Regions from separate parts of the Homo sapiens genome. Here region 1 is linked to region 2. The links come from fine-mapping of genetic effects on gene expression. Tissue or cell type: whole blood. Region 2 holds a variant in brackets; the other region holds the start of a gene. All regions are shown on one strand. Distances are between the middles of the regions.

What was found. PIP is the estimated chance that this variant, and not a neighbour inherited with it, causes the effect.
Region 1: MEF2A starts here. The variant in region 2 is fine-mapped to the expression of MEF2A in whole blood (TOPMed, PIP above 0.99).

The regions. Positions count from the first base shown.
Region 1 is chr15:99,562,021-99,570,110 of GRCh38, reverse strand. MEF2A (myocyte enhancer factor 2A) reads right to left here and starts at 4,127. Exons shown (of 12, transcript NM_001319206.4): 1 at 4,007-4,127. RefSeq lists silencers at 3,627-3,676, 4,517-4,956 and enhancers at 2,856-3,829, 3,830-4,805.
Region 2 is chr15:99,708,339-99,716,442 of GRCh38, reverse strand. MEF2A (myocyte enhancer factor 2A) reads right to left here. Exons shown (of 12, transcript NM_001319206.4): 11 at 5,683-5,809; 12 at 1-4,053. The coding sequence ends at 3,672. It also overlaps a transcript of LYSMD4 not described here. Among named protein-coding and RNA genes, the nearest start is that of LYSMD4, 21 kb to the left of the region's middle. The variant C/A (reference allele first, on the strand shown) is at 3,843.

The DNA of each region.
Region 1 (8,090 bases), 150 kb after region 2:
TATGATTTCATCTCGACTAAGATAATTAATAATTAAAATATTAAATTCAGTAAATATCAATTAAATTCTGTAAATATAAATATTATTAAAGTATAAAGCATCTATATAAAAATTTAGTACTTATTAAATAAGTACCAACCTATATCGTGTGCTATGTGTAAGATTTACTAATTAACAAATGGATTTACACTCTTAATTATAATAAACTGGACACAAGGTCCATTTATTATAAGGCACACAGATAAACTATACACGAGAAAATCATTAATTTCACACCAAATCAAAGTATTTTAAAAATTACAGATTAACTAAAGTTACTTTAAAATATTAAAATAACCTTCAATATTAAAATATTTAAAAACTTTTCTTCAGAAATTAAGCTATTTTAAAATACCTATTCAAGGTAGATTACAGAAGTATTCTTCTAACTTTAAATTTCAAATACTATATCTTAGAGACCACTCCCACAGTCAATCCCTAAAAGACAGAATTCACTGAAGATTGGGAAACTATTTATATTTAACTTGAATCTTTAGAAAAATATTTGGGGAGATTATGGAGATTAGAAACAAACTATGGTTGAAGATCAAAATTCTAATGTTTTAAAACAGCCAATTAAGCGTTTTATGTATAATCTGACAATGAATTTAAGATGCTGGGATATTTTATCCAAAACAAACACATTAAGCATTCTCTATTGATACATTATACGAAATCCTTTTGGTCACAAACACTAAACGTATGGGTACTGGGCAGGGTACCTACATAATCTTCAGAGGAAAGAAGAAACAAAAGCCAGAAGGGATGCAGGGAGATCAGGCAATACGCATTTTCGCACATGAAGCTTCACGCAGTGTGTTAGAACTTTTACACTCGCTATCTCATTTAATTCCAACACGGGGCAGGTAGTGTAATTCTATCTCATTTTACAGGAGATATCTCAACTCTGTCAGCAGTGGAGCTGGATCTGAATCAAGATCTGACTACAGAGTCAAGCAGCCTTCCTTTACTGGGGCTTGCAAATCAGCATATGTTAAAAGCATTCTCTTGCACGAGGTTATCCAGCTTAAAGGGTGATCTGATTTCCATATTTACACTTATTATTTAAACATTAGGAGAGAAGGCACTCACTTCTCCATTTACTAAGAATCCACAGATTTTCTTTCTTATCTAGAAAAAAGAAATAGTGATCATTTTTGGTCCACAAATGGTTTTCTCATAGTGTCATCGCATAAAAGAAAACTTCAGCTAGACTTTGAAACATTCATATGTACCATGAGTAACCGGGGTATGGTCTGATGACAACACAGAATATGTGAAATTAGAAATGCCCCCAAATCCAGGCCCATCATCATCGTATATTACACTACATTCTTCTTGCCAGACTAAAAGCAGCAAAGGGAGGAAAAAAGATGGTTTTCCAAACTGACAAGCATGCTATTTTTCAGTAACAAATTTGTTCATGGCTTCTTCCTCCTAAATCAGAACACAAATCTACTGAAAAGATTTAGCTAGACTATTTCAAACTCCAAAATCATATTCTAATAAACATTTCCATAATTTCTTAACCACCCTCAGAATATAATTCAATATTCCTCTTTTTGGTAGCCAATTAATGGATGACACTGCTATTGCTGGAATATTAATAAAATTAATATTAACCCACAATGCATGATGGAAAAGGCAAATTGTAACGAAATTGCTTTGAAAAACATAACATCACCATTTGAAACAACTCAACCTTTTTAAGAGATTATTTCCAACTGCATTTACAAAAAAAAATCCTTGTCACACATACCCATATGAAAACAAACTCTAAGAATACAGAAGGAAATTATTCTCAAACCATAATTCAACATGGTGACATTACAATTATTTCTGGGTGTCAATAAGCTATTTTCCTTCCACTGAACACCCCCCAGAATTTAATTTTTTAAAAAACTTTTGAAGGCAAGTAAAGTGTAATTTTAACACTTTTGTTCTAATATGAAATCAAACCACAATTTTATATATAACCATAGTGTGAATTAAAGGAAATAGGTAAGCAAATAATTGCGTTTAGAGAGGTCACCATTACTTCACAGTCACTGTTTTCACTAAGTAGCTACTGGAACCACACTCTTCAACAAAACTGTTAATCTAGAGTCTACAAACATTCAAATCACCAGTTTTAGCTCTTCAGAGTACTTTTGATTATTGTAACACCATTATCACAACTTTTTGCAACAATGCTCACTGAGAATTAAAATAAAGGTGATTCTATTGTCAATGTGTCACCATATATAACAAATACTGATCTTAATGTTTTATGATATACAGGTGTGTGTTTATGACATTTAATATAAACTAATCTAAATCAGCATCTGCTTTAGTGAAAACTCTTGATTCCCTAAAACAAAAGTTGTAATTTACAGAAAAAGAAATGGAGACTGAGCTCTCCAAAAATACACACACACACACACACACACACACACACACACACAGTACATACAAAAGCCATAAAGGCACAATGCAGTCATTTTTATCCTCACTTCCTAAATTCATATTAAAAGAAATGTCATTTTTGTATGTTTAAAAAAGAACTATTTTGTTTACCTTTTCCACAGACTGTTCAAGAACTGCCAAGGTAACACAGATTCTAAAACTGACAACTAGAGTACTTAGCAGTTGCCAAAACAACACAGCTGGATTCTTAAAGGGAAAGTACTCTTGGGTAATGTACACCTAATTACAGCTTTAGAGAACCTCCTCTTCATATAGTAATAGATGATACAAGACACATGGGAAACATACTGTGCTAAAAACCCGAAAAAATGTTAAGACAATGTTTGTTTAAAAATACATATGCTATTGTTAACACATCACAGCAGGCCTTTCTAATAGGGCATTTATTGGAATCCCAATCTCACTGTAAACTAAAACGCAGGTTAACACTATGTTATATTCAAGCTACACACGGTTCCCTGCTGGACCATAACAGGAGGCTCGCTTCACAGCTCCGGAATCTATTTCGGATGTGAGCAACAATTCTATAGTTACACTTTTAAAGAAAAACTGTTTTCTTATTCAGGATTGCTCACCTTTTCCAAACTTGTTTGCACTATCTCACTTACTTTAACCCTCACAGCTCAAAGGCATGAAATCGAGCCAAAAAGCAAAGTTTCTAACACAAAAAATATTTTCTGCGAGCTGGGATCTAGCCGGATGGCAGGGGTTCAGCCAGCGGTTCCCTGTGCAGCCCCTCTGTCCCCGCGACGTCTCCCCGCACGATCGGGCGTCCGCAACCGCAGGTGTCCGCCCCAAACACCGACCCCGCCACTGACATCTACACACTCACAGAATTCGTACCTAAGCGTTCCACCCCGTTAGACCAATCTTCTCCCAAAGCAGAAGTGGGGGAACTTCTTCAAGTCCAACAGGGCAGAAGGCCCCCCGCACTTGGGGCTAATCCCTTCGGGGAGACCCCCGGGCTTGGAGGGAAAAGGGGAAGGAAAGGGCCCTCAGAGCGCACCTTCTCCGGGGTCTCCCGAGAACTCCTTCAACTTTCAAGGAGGCGACGTCCACCACCGCCCCCCGGCCCCAAGGGGTGCGCGCCCGGGGAGGCTGCTCGCCACCAGCCCGCGCGACTGAGCTCCCCTCGGCCCGCCCAGCCGAGCCCCATCCAGCCCCACCGGCCCGCCCTCAGGGCACCCCGCCCCCACCTCCCCGGGCGCCTAGCTCCTCAGCGCCGACCCCGACCCGACCACCCCTCGCCGCCTCCCAGCACCCTACCCGCCTCCCAGCACCCTACCCGCCCCGCCAATGCGCGAACGCGACCCTGGCCCCCTCCAAGCCGGACACGGCCTCGTCCAGGGGTCCCCGGAGCCCCCCGGGCGACCCTCTCGGCCGCGCCGTCCCCCGCCCCAGCACCTCCACCCCAACCCCTACTCGGTCCCCTAAGCGAGACGCCGCCCCCCTCCAGCACTACCGGCGTCGCGGACTGAGCCCCGCTGCCCGCGGCCCTCACCGTATCTCCGGAGCAGCTGGCGGGCGCGCACACGCCGCAGCCCGGGCCCGCCACCAGCGCTTCGCGCCGCCCGGAGCCGCCTCTTTCAGCCCGGGACTCGCCGGGACATCCGCGCACGGATCCCCACACCGGGGCTATTTTTAGGAGACAAGCCTCGGCCAGACCGGAACTCGTTCTGTGCTGCGCGTGCGCACTACCTCCGCCGCCTCGGTGTCCCTCCGCAGCCCTGCCTCCCCTCCCTCCTGGGTTCCCTTCCTCGCTTCTCCCCATCAGTTTCTTTTCAGGACTGAATTATCCTCTCGGTGGGTTCTAGAGTAATTGGAATGGGAAAGACAAGGGTAGGGCAAAGAGAGTCACGGTGCTTGGAAGCGGGCGCTATTCCACAAGGACGTGGGGGCGGACTATGTTTTTCCGGGTGGGTGAGGAGACGATCACCTGGCACAGGAAGAAGATGACGGCGGCTTGGCGCCGGGGCCGCGGGTTGGAGCTCGCTTTCCTCTGAAGGACCGTGTTCCCCTGGAAGGGATACTGGTCACTTGATGAGGGCCCGGGCGCCTCCCAGGGCGGGGCGGCCCGGCGGCGTCGCGCCCTGCCGCCCCCGCTCCGCCGCTCAGCCGCCGCCACCTCCCTGACCAGCCCCCGGGAGCCCAGGCCGGGAGCGGCCCGGTGACGCGGCGCGTGGCAAATCGCCGCGCGTGGCCTCCAGGGCAGCCAACCCGGGCGGTGGGGCGGCGCGGCGCGACGGGACTGGGCGGGGCTCCCGGGGCGGGGGCGGGGCGCGAGGCCGGCTGCCGCCCGGAGTCCGGGGCCGGGCGGGTCCTTCGGGACGCCCGGGTCAGCCTCCTCCCTCCCTCCCTCGAGGCGCCCTTGGCCTCCCCGGGTGTCGGCTCGCCACGCCCGCATTGTGGCCAGGGCCGCACCTGTGCTCGCCCCGGGGCACGGGCAGGTCACCCTCAGGAGCAAGCACAAGGGGACTCTGGGACCCGGGCCCGGAGAGAAAGGGACTTGAAGGGGTCTCGAGGGCGAGAAGGCCCTTTCGGACTGGACAGCCGAGCTCCCCAGGTCCCAGGACAGTAGCAACCTCCTTATCGTGACTTAATAGTTTCTAGGATGCCTGGGGCGGTGAACTATGTGATGGACATTTTGCATATGACAGCTTATGTAATACTTACAAGGCCCCATGAAGCAGATTCAGTTTCTATTCCCATTTTACAGATGAGGAAAGGGAAGCTGAGCGCTAAAGTGACCTGTCAGGGTCACAGCTTCAGAGTAGGGCCCTGAGGACTTGAACTCCTGACCACTCTGCATGTTGCCTTTTCTGAGATAGGTGCAAAGGGGATAGGCTTGGGACAGCTGTTGTGTTTTCTGGGGCTACTGATTATGTTTATCGAGGTCTTTAGGAGATGAGCCATTGTTGGCCCTCTCATCCTGAAAGCCGCTCACCTCTGAAGAGTTTTTCGGGGCCACAGTGCCTGCATGTGCCCCCAGAGGTGCCTGTGTAATGGACACGAAGCCAAATGGTTGTTTGCATTTGAAGATGAGAAATTCAATCCCGCAGCACTTAAAACAAAGTGGTTGGGGTGGGTGAGCAGATGAGCAGAGGCTGTGAGTGGAGGAACTGGGAAGTTACAAAGGAAGCCAGAGACTGGCTGGCTTCCTCCCTCAAGGACAACGGGGCAATGTGCTGGGGAGAGCCCAAAACAAAGGCGGCACATAGACAGCAGACGCCAGAAAATAAACCTGGAGCTCTGCTCAGAGCTCCACAACACCAGTGTTCAGGGGAGCCAGCAAAAGGAACTGCAGGGAGGTTTTTAAAACATGTCAAAATGTGGTGTAAATCAGCAAGTCATGTGGAAATGCATGCTTTTTAACCTGCCAGAAGCTGCAGAGCCGGCTGGATTTGGCTCTTCTGCTCCAAGAGGACGAGAAGAGTTTAATACTTATCCTTTAAAACTTAGGGTCTGGAGTGGGGGCACAGTGATCAGTGGCCCTCTCCTTGCCACCTGCTGTCACCCTGGAAGAAGAGGCAATGAAAACAGACTGTTCCAAAAGATGTTTTCACCCTTATTGCTCCACTCCGGCTCCCACCCTTCCAGAAATTGAGCCTCCTGAGGCACAGAAGACTCAGCTCAGACTGCCCAGCCCTTACCCATTCCAATGCTATTGTTACCCTCAAAATGTCAAGCAGAGAACTCAACTATGAGTCCAGCCACAGCAGAAATGAAAAGAGTGTTTGCATCACCTTAAAGAGCACCTCTCTCCCCACCACTCTGCATGTCAAAGCCCTTGTCTGAGAATTGCAGGCAGTGGTAAGAAGGAAGGAAGGAAAGGAAGGAGAGAAGGAAAAGTGGAAGGCTAAGTTTAAGAATTGTGGAGCACAGCTATTAGCAGAGCACAATCACTGTTATTTGTAGTAAAAGCAACCAATTTTAGGAAATTGCCACAGCCTCTGTTTCAGCTGTTGAAAACCTATACCTGAAGTCTAGCGTCTCTAGCAACTTCGAGCGCTCAGAAAGACCCTGTGCCGAGCACTTACGTGTGCCACTGGCTTGGAGGGAACTGAGGAGCAGCATCTGTCAGTCTTTCCCCTCTGGCCTCCTTAAAGGCACTCAGGGGTCCAGATGTTTCTGAGCTGCAGGGACTGTGCACTGGGCCAGGCACTGAGATACAGAGGTGAGAAAGAGCAGCCCTTTCTTCAAAGGGGCTGGCAGGCCGTGGGGAGGATACACCTTAAAACACAACCCATCATGAGGGGTTTCCTAGAGTGCAGGAAGAGCACAGATGATGAGTGTCTAAGGAGGGACAAGAATTAGGGTAGGCTTCTTAGAGGACATAATGCCCACAGTGAATCTGGAAAACCTCCTGGTAGGATGAAAAAAGGGCCCTCACTGTGTCTTGATGAGAAGAATAATGCTCAAGCTGCCTAGAAGCCAAAGGAACCCCTGACGACTTGGCCAGCTTCTCCCTCACCTCTTCTTCCTGACACCCCACTTTCTCCATTCAGAAATTTGAGAAGCTTCTCTGTACACACCAGCCCGTTTCCTCCTGTCTGCAGGGTAAACTCTGCATCAAGTCAATCCATCAAGTCTCCACTTAGGCATCATTTTCTCTAATATGGGGTTTTACTCAACGAATAGTGTATTTCTTTTTGTATGTCTGTTTCCTCCCTTTAGAGAGTGAGCTCCTTGAAGACTAAAACTGTAACTTATTCTTTATTGTATTCACTGTGTCTAGCACAATGCCTGGAATGTCCTAGAAAATCAAATAAATGTTTCTTAAATATTTATGAGCAGACCTTAGGCAGAGGGAGCGCTGTGTGCGGGGACCTCGAGTGTGGCTCTGAGACCCGACAGCTAGCACAGTGTGCCTGGAGTCTGCATTGAGTACTGGGAAGCAGCTAAAAGAGTAGCTGGGAATGAGATGGCGCAGATCATTAACATGTCAAGATCAAGCCATTTGGATTTTATTCTGAACCCCTGACAGATTTTAAGCAGGTGAGGAGCTTGAGCTATTTGGCATTTTAGAAAGACTACTTAGGGAGTAGTGGTTGGTGGGGAGAGCAAGCCTGGAGGCAAAACAACCAGTTAGGAGGTACTGATGTTGTCAGACCCCCTCCCGCCCTCATCTCCAAAGATCTTCACAAAGTTCCCACACATGCTGATGACTTCCTGTGTGTCTGTGTTTGAGAGCATGCTCTAGCTTAGAGGGCTGGTCTTCGTAGATAAATATCCCAGCTTCCTCAAAACTCAGGAAGACATTTCTGAGGCATGCTCCCCCAAGTCTCTTGTGGAGGGATGGGATGTCCCAGTAGATTGGGCACCCATTGACAGCAGTGGTGACCTACCCATTTGCACACTTCTGTTACCTCTTCTCCTTTCCCCTCTCTCACTTCCTGGGATCACCTTCCAAACACTCTACCTTCACCAGAATCTTTGGGAGTCTACTTCTCAGGGGACCTATTTGATGCCGATGCTACCTGAGATAAGAAAGAGGACCTGAATGAAGGCAGTTTCCTGATACAAATGAGAAAGCAGGGGCAAAATAGAAAGCTGTTTAGAAGTCACAACTCACTGGCTTGCTGACC
Region 2 (8,104 bases):
AACAGTTTACAACAACCTTTAGCATTGTCTTCACCATTTGATAAAAAGTTCACTATTATATTTATTGTATAATGAAGAAAAACAACACATTCAGGGAAAAATTGAGATTAACTTATTTTTCTTAAAAGGTTCATCTCAAGGATGGCAACAAAGTCCAGCTTGTGCCGCCAAACGGTTTTACATGATCAAACCGTGTACAGCTTCTTGTGTGAACTGTTGACTACAAACATTTACCAAATACATAAATCTCTTTTAAAAAAGCCATTTTAAATATAGCAAAGCAGTGTCTTCTTGCACAGCAAAGTGAAGAAAGTTTCTACAGAGAAATAGAAGTTTTACATTTGTAAAATCTTTTTCACATTCTAATCATCTAGCTTAAGATCCAATGCCAGGAGTTTTCAGCTTCCTTATTTACTATGTATTTCTTGTGCGCATGATGGTTAATACAGAAATTATGTTGATGCATTACTAGTTATCCTTCTAGTTAAAGGAAAGGGTAAAACATGTATTGTTCTTGTAGAACAAACCCCTGATTTAGTCTATAACAAAATGGACATAATTGGGCTCAAAAGATGGAGTTTTGATTGGGACCACCTGTGTACACACAACAGTGACTTCCACTCGCGGTGGAGTGGCCATTAGAGTACTGAGGAAGGACAGCTGTTGGAAACTGTACTTTAACCAGTGCAATTTAAGCTTTTTTTGCTTTTGTTCTTTAGTAATAAAATACTTCTGGAGGGATAAAATTTTCTTGCAATGGTGTCTCATACAAAACACGAGTCTAAAAGGGTAAGAAAAGACGGTTCTAAAGCAACACCATTAGCGTCGTCCCCTCTCTAGGCTGGTTTCCACCCAGAGATGTGGATGTGGGTGTGTTCACACGTGGGCGTCTGGGTGAGAGATGTCTGTCAAGTCCATATGCTCCATGCCACACTGGACGTATGGGAAAAAGGTTAACAGTCAAATATTCAGTTCCTGAAATGGAATACATTGTTACTTGGTCAGTGTAATTTAAATACAAACTCCGAGCCTTGAGTAGTAGTATTTTAGAAAACAGTAGTTGTACTGATTATAAACCTGCATAGAAAGAAAGACTATTGAGATACAGTCAGAAAAGCCATCTCATAAGGCACACAAGAAAATAGACAGTAAATGTGAATGTGTTAACTCCTATTCCAATGTACAGCAGAAGTTCATGAACATGCATAAATAATAACGAAGGAATCACTTAACACTTTCAAAGCTATAAATGGTTTACAAAGTGGTAAGGATTATTTTGGAACTTCAGTGTTGGGAGACTGTCTTGTTTGGATTAGGTGTGGCCTTATGAAGAAATGTGCCTGTAAGTAGTTCAGTAAAGTAAGTACATTTTTAAAGAAAAATCCTTTCTGAATAAGAGCCTAATGTCTATACTGAAGAGAGGAGACAGCATGTCATCCTCCTTTTTTTGGCCTCTCTCAAAAGTTACTGCCCAAACTGCCATGAGAACAGAACCTCCAGTTTGCAGCCTGTGGTGCGCAGGTCTCTCCTGCACTGATCATACCTATGTGTCAGTCAGGAAATCTGGCTGATGACTTGTCACAAACAGCAGATGAGGAAAATGTCAAAAGGAACGTAATTTGGGGGGGGGGTGGGGGGGGGGGAACAAAATGTACATAGAAATTGTAGGTAGCTGCTCAATATCATTTAAAATATAAAATAGCAATTTTTAAACCCTTGAGTTTTTTAGGAAAAGGAGTATTTAAAAATCTACAATGAAAGATATACAGGACTTTGAATTTTGCTCATGGCACAAGCCCAGTAAGTGGATGAACTTGCTATCATCCATTAGTTGTCTTCCTGAAAGAATAAGGCCTTGTTCAAAATCCAAGCTGAGGGTGGCACTAATTCCAATTAGAATGGCAAGAGTCATGCCAAGGACCAGCACCCTAAGAGTGTTTCTCCCCGCATACCAAAGCATCACTGCAATGTGCAGAAGAGCTGATAACGGTAGGATTTTGTAACCAGCTGCATCGTTCTGTTTTCAGAGGGTCAAGGAAAAAAGATCCCTTTCCCCATGATTATTTTCCCCTAATCATTTACCACTTATAAAACCTTTGTGCTCATCTACTATTTTGCCATTTTCTCTAATATTAATTAAATTAGGTCAGCTTTTTCTACTACATTTTTTCCTCACAAAAGGCAAGTTTTAAATAATGCCTTACAAAATCTGTTACAACACATTTTATACTTATGCAGGATGAACTTAACACCAATTTTTTTTGCCACTTTGCTATTTATGTACACATACAAAATATATAATGATGCTCAACCCATACAGCACAAAGATTACAATGTAACATCACACATTCACCACCAGTGAGGGGAGAAACCCCTTTATACAATCCTCTGAAAAAACTGGGCTAATAATTAAAATCCAAAGTACAGTATATTTAACAAAATAGTAAATATTAAACAGTGAATACTTAATAAAGGACCTCGCCTTTTCCCCCCAGATTGGCGGCAATCCACAAAAATATACTTTTTAATCTGGTGACCATACAATACATAGGTACTTACATCAAAGGTGATAATATATTTAAGATGCTATATACACAAAGAGTTTGGCTCAACTTTTAATTTACATTTAGAATAAGTGTTCATGGCTTTTTTTTTCCAAGGTTCTGCTTGCAAGATATTTTTGTTTTCCCCTCTTAAAATAAAACTAAAGAGTTAAACCAAGATAAAGCTATTCTCTAAAAAAAAGTTACAACATATAGCTTTGGCTTATATAAATAATTCATAGCAGAATGTGTTCAAAAGTAGTGAATATAATTTTATATATAGTCATCAATTCATAAGGGTGTTTTCTTTCATATAAAATATACATGAGCTAAAATCAGTTTCTTTAATTTTTAAGATATGAATGTAAAAAGAAACTTCTGACATATTCCAATTATAACTTAATATATTAATTTTACTTTGTTAATGCTCTATATTTCTAGGCTAGTATTTTCTGAATATCTCATGCGTGTTTTCTATTCTCTTTCTTTATTAGCTAAAGATCACTTCTTGACCCAATACATTTTTGCACGTGCAAAACAGTTATGTGTGGGGCTTTTTTGTTTTGTTTGTTTTTAATATCAACAGCCCTTTCCCATGCACCCCTTTGCAACAGACACCCATGCCAGGTTGGAAAATATAAATGACATTTTATGTACAGTATTGCTTTCTTGGTTCCTGCTTTTCTACTGCTCTGTTCTACAAAGCATTTTCTCTTAAGTAACTACAGTCACTGCACAGTTAAATAAAACAAGTAGGGGGCCCTCTAGGTTTCTGCAAGCTAGTGTGGGAGAATTATATATGGGTACACGTTTCTCTGCAAAAACTGGTTATCTTTACGAAACAAGTAGTCCAAGGAAGTGCCAGACTTGTCTGTGCCTACAGGGTGCTTTGTCTGCCATGGGACACACATCTGCAGACCTACAAGGAGTTTGCAGGTAAGTGCCTGATTCTGTGTATGTAACACACACCCACACATACACACTCACACCCACATACATATATATGTAAAGGGATATATATATGTATGTACATATAAATATATTTAACTCATGTCCTTATTTACCGATTTAGATATGTAGGGCAGGTCACTGCAGTAACACAAAAGTACAAACATCAGCTTGGAAGCCTTAGGTCACCCACGCGTCCATCCTCATTCGCTTTACAGAAGGGCTTTCTCTGTCCTCAGTGTTTGGGGGTCGGCCAAGCACAATTGGAGAATGGAAGTCGCCCCGTGGATCCTCCCGATCACTGCCATCATAGGAGCTACTAGAGCTGCTCAGACTGTCCACAGGGGAGCG[C/A]CCCATTTCCTGTCGGGGCTGGGGCTGCGGGGGTTGTGGCTGGGGCTGCGGTGGTGGCGGCGGCTGCTGCTGCTGCTGCTGCTGCTGCTGCTGCTGGAAGCCCGATGGGGTCATACGATCCCGAGGAGGTGAAATCGGTTCGGACTTGATGCTGATGTTTTGGTTGGTATTAATGGATAAATTGGAACCCTGAGATAACTGCCCTCCAGCACTGAAGGAAAAAAAAGAGAGAGGTCAGATGGCTTGCAAGTACCTCTGCAAAACTGGGATGATACAGTAGAGACACTGCCTGATGGAAAAGGGCCCAGAGTCTGAAATCTTATCAGAGTTCCCCAAGACTGGTTTGGGTCGTTTCCTTCAGTGCTTGGCACAAAAGGAAATCCCATCTTCCTAGGAGGAAAGAAAACAGTACCGTTGAGCCCTTACGTTACTTGGTTCTGTTACCCACAACGTTGGTACTTTTGCAGCTAAAGTATACAAAACAATGTCAGTGTCTTAATGCTGTGCAGGGACCAGAAAGACAGAGGAACAGCAGCCTCATCTGCTCACCGCCTCTTCTTCCTCAGCATCTGCTCCCCATCTGCTCTGGCCCTGTGACAGGGCACAACATCGCTCATCCTCGCAACACCTCTAAGGTGCAAGTCGCACCATCCCCATTTTCCAGATGAGGAAATGAGGGGCTGGCTGAGAGCAGTAGAGGAGGACGCAAACAGGCTGTTCCCCGGGCCTGGGCTCTGAGCCCTTTCCACTTGCTTTTCCAGGACTATTTTTAGTGCATTCATTTAGGATGCTCAGGACAGGCCTGAGGGCCAAATCCTGTGTAGGCAAATTTCCCTGAGATACTCTGCTGCTTTTTCCATGACATAATTCCTAAGAAGACCACTGACAACAATCCTCACTGTGCAGTTACTTCAGAATGGATGAGGGAAAGGGACTGCTGAGCTCAGGCTCTCTGGGGACTTCCTGGGCAGAGGCTAGGGGCCTGGGGTATTCCTACTGCCCAGAGCACAGGCAAGGCAGCCAGTCTTCATGGAGGCCAGCTGGGTCTGCTATGTTGTCCCCTCTCTTGGGACACTCTCCTCCAACTGCTCCATGGGTCTGCTGTCATCCTGGTTCCACAAAAGCCCTGTTCTTTCTCCCGGCTGTCAGGGATGTCTGGCCTCATCTGGGCGCCACTGTAAATCCTCTTTGCTTATATCCTTACACCCTGCCCATACGGAACATTCTCTTTGTGAATGAGGTTTGGTGTGTGCATTGGGCTGGGATCAGTCACACAAATCCTATGGAGCCTGACTGATATATAAGACACCCTGTCCCCAGTTTTCCTTCCCTGTGGCCCAGGGAGAAAGCAAAAGCTCCAGCTTGTCTTCCTATTCTTGTCTACAGATACTCACCAAAGCAGTCAATGGCAAGGGTGGCAGGGAGGCCTGAATGCCTACAGGCTGCCTTTCAAGCAGTGCAGCCAGAGGCAGGTGCTTGGGAGCAGGGGTGCAGTAGGCAGCTTCATCACTGGTCAGAGGGCAGAAGGATGGTGCATGCGGGTGGTATCTGTGCCTTCAGACCCCTTCAGATCCTGGTTGAGTCTCTCTACCTCAGGATGTCCCTATGGGAGAAGCCTTGCTCCCCAAATCCCTTCAAGGAATGCCTAGTTTGTCAGTATCCAAGCTACTGTCTAGAGCCATGTAAGAAAATATTTTCTCCCGACACTTGTATCTACCTGAAAAGGAATCATTACAGGATTCCTCACACGAAACTCAACAGAGCAAAAGGCTGTCACTGATAGGAAAAGAGAGTGTGTAGGCCAGGAGTAAAGATGCAGGGAAAACTTCTAGTTACTCACACAAGAGAGCTGAGGGCTGCTTGTCCTAGGTGGTGCTGCTGCCAGGCCGACACCTGTCCCAGCGACAGCATTCCTGGCGAGTTGAAGCCTTGAAGGGCTGACAGGTCAGCGCTGGTCAGTGAATAATCTACAAAGGAAGACAAGAGGGCTCTGCATATGATGGAAGGTCCATACGGAATCTATTTTTTACGTAGCTACTGCAAAAGTTCCTACATTGAGGCCAGCCATGCTGGCTCATGCCAGTAATCCCAGCACTTTGGGAGGCCAAGATGGGCGGATCACTTGAGGTCAGGAGTTTGAGACCAGCCTGGACAACATGGTGAAACCCCGTATCTGCTAAAAATACAAAAATTATCCAGGCGTGGTGGCGCATGCCTGTAGTCCCAGCTACTTGGGAGGCTGAGGCAGGAGAACTGCTTGAACCCGGGAGGCAGAGGCTGCAGTGAGCCGAGGTAGCACCACTGCACTCCATCCAGCCTGGGCAACAGACTTCCTCTCAAAAAAAAATAAAATAAAAAGTTCCTACATTGAGAGAAGCCAGATACTTCACAACAAAACAACATACATGTGGGTCTAAAATCCGCAAAATCTTTTCTTGGAAGATTTACAGGATCTAGCAATATTTCTTTGTCTGGGATGATTCAAATAAGAGGCCATCATTAAAGAGTGTTCTGTACAATTGTTACTTTAAATATGCCTGCCACTACCCTTTGGAACAAAGAGAAACACTCAACCTCAACCAGAGTGAGTTTGAATCAGCAAGTCTTAATGAAGCAAGGGGTTGGGGGACAGGGAATAGGGGACAGGAAAGACAGAATCCCTACATGGGGTGCCAAGCTCAGTGACATCATTACACAATTAGTAAGCGCATTTGTTTAAAGTACCTAGACTGTCGCAAACTCCCTGACAGCATGCAAGAGTTTCAACTTCATGAAAAAACTCGGTGTCCTAGAGTATACCCAGCTCATATCATATGAATGCTTCAGTCGTAATCACTGGGACCAAGATTTAGGACGTTAGTTATCACTCACACGGGGAGTTATTTCAGCTCATCATTAACACTTGTCTTTCTCACTTGGTTCCAAAGAGAGGTGGCAAAACTCTTCTACTTTTATCTTCTTTCTCATGTCTCAAGAGAGGTGTTTAAAGAAATTGGTCTTCCTAGTGAATTAACATTTTAAAAAAGGAACGGAGTTGAAGCGACACAGCTGGTGCTCAGGGCTGTCCTGACTCTGCCCTTGTCATTCTATACACTCCCATGGGCTGGGGCAAGGACCCGTCACACTGACGCCTTCCCCAGTGCTCCCTCCGGCCCACAGTCTCCTTCGACCTCTAGATCTTTTAAACGACCTAGTGCCATGTCCATTTGGACGCCACTCCAAACGCCACACATCTGACATGGCCCATCCTTTCCTGCAAACCTGTTCCTCCTTAAGTACTCTTAGTACATGGCACCAACATGCACCCAGCAGCTCGTGCAGAAGCCCATGGGTGTTATCCTTGCTACTTCCCTTCCCTCTCACTCCCAACATCAATTTCCAGGTCTGAGCAATTCTATCTGCTCTCTCTCAAGCCTGCCCAGGTCTCACCATCTCTACTGCCACCTCTCTAGTCTATGCTATCAGCACCCATTGCTTGGACCACTACAGTAGCCTCTGATGTGGCTTCCTGGCATTGCCTTTTAACCCTATATACAGCAAAGACATCTTTTTAAAATAACAAATATGGTCATGGCACTCCTCTACTTCAAAAGTTTTTTATGGCTCCCCAATGCTCTCCGGACAGTTTCCAAAATCCTTGACATAGTCTACAAATCATTACTTACCTCTCTAGTCTCAATTCTAACCACCCACGCTCTGTCCCCATTCCTTCAGCCCCGTCCCGCCCGCAAACTCCTAGCCTTTGTACAGGCACACCCTCTCCCAAGAGCACTCTGCCTCCTCTGCCTGGCTGAGTCACGCATGTTCCTTCCTGTCCGAGCTGAGACACAGCCCTTGACACAACTGCAGCAGCTTATCCCTAGAGCTGTGTGTCTTGTGCCTTCCCCCCAGGCTTCACTGCTGACTGCACTCCTGCATTTCCAGTGCCTGGCACAGTGCCTGCCACACAGCAGCTGCCTGATAAATATTTGCTGAATAGATGTGGAAATAAGTTAAAAACAACATGGTAAACTTCAAACAGAGTAAGTGTTACGAGAAAGAGAAGAAAGATAAAGTCGGTCAAAAGGTGGCATGAGACTGACGCTAAGCGACTGATGATTTTGAGAGCCTGCCTCCATTTTTATATGCTTTGGTAATTTCTTTTATACTTTTAAAAAATAAATTCCCAATTCAATGGCATTTCTAAAAATAAGTATAGTGGAATTTCTAAGTATACTGAAAAACCTGTAATGAAACGGTCAGTAAACCATAATCTGACACCC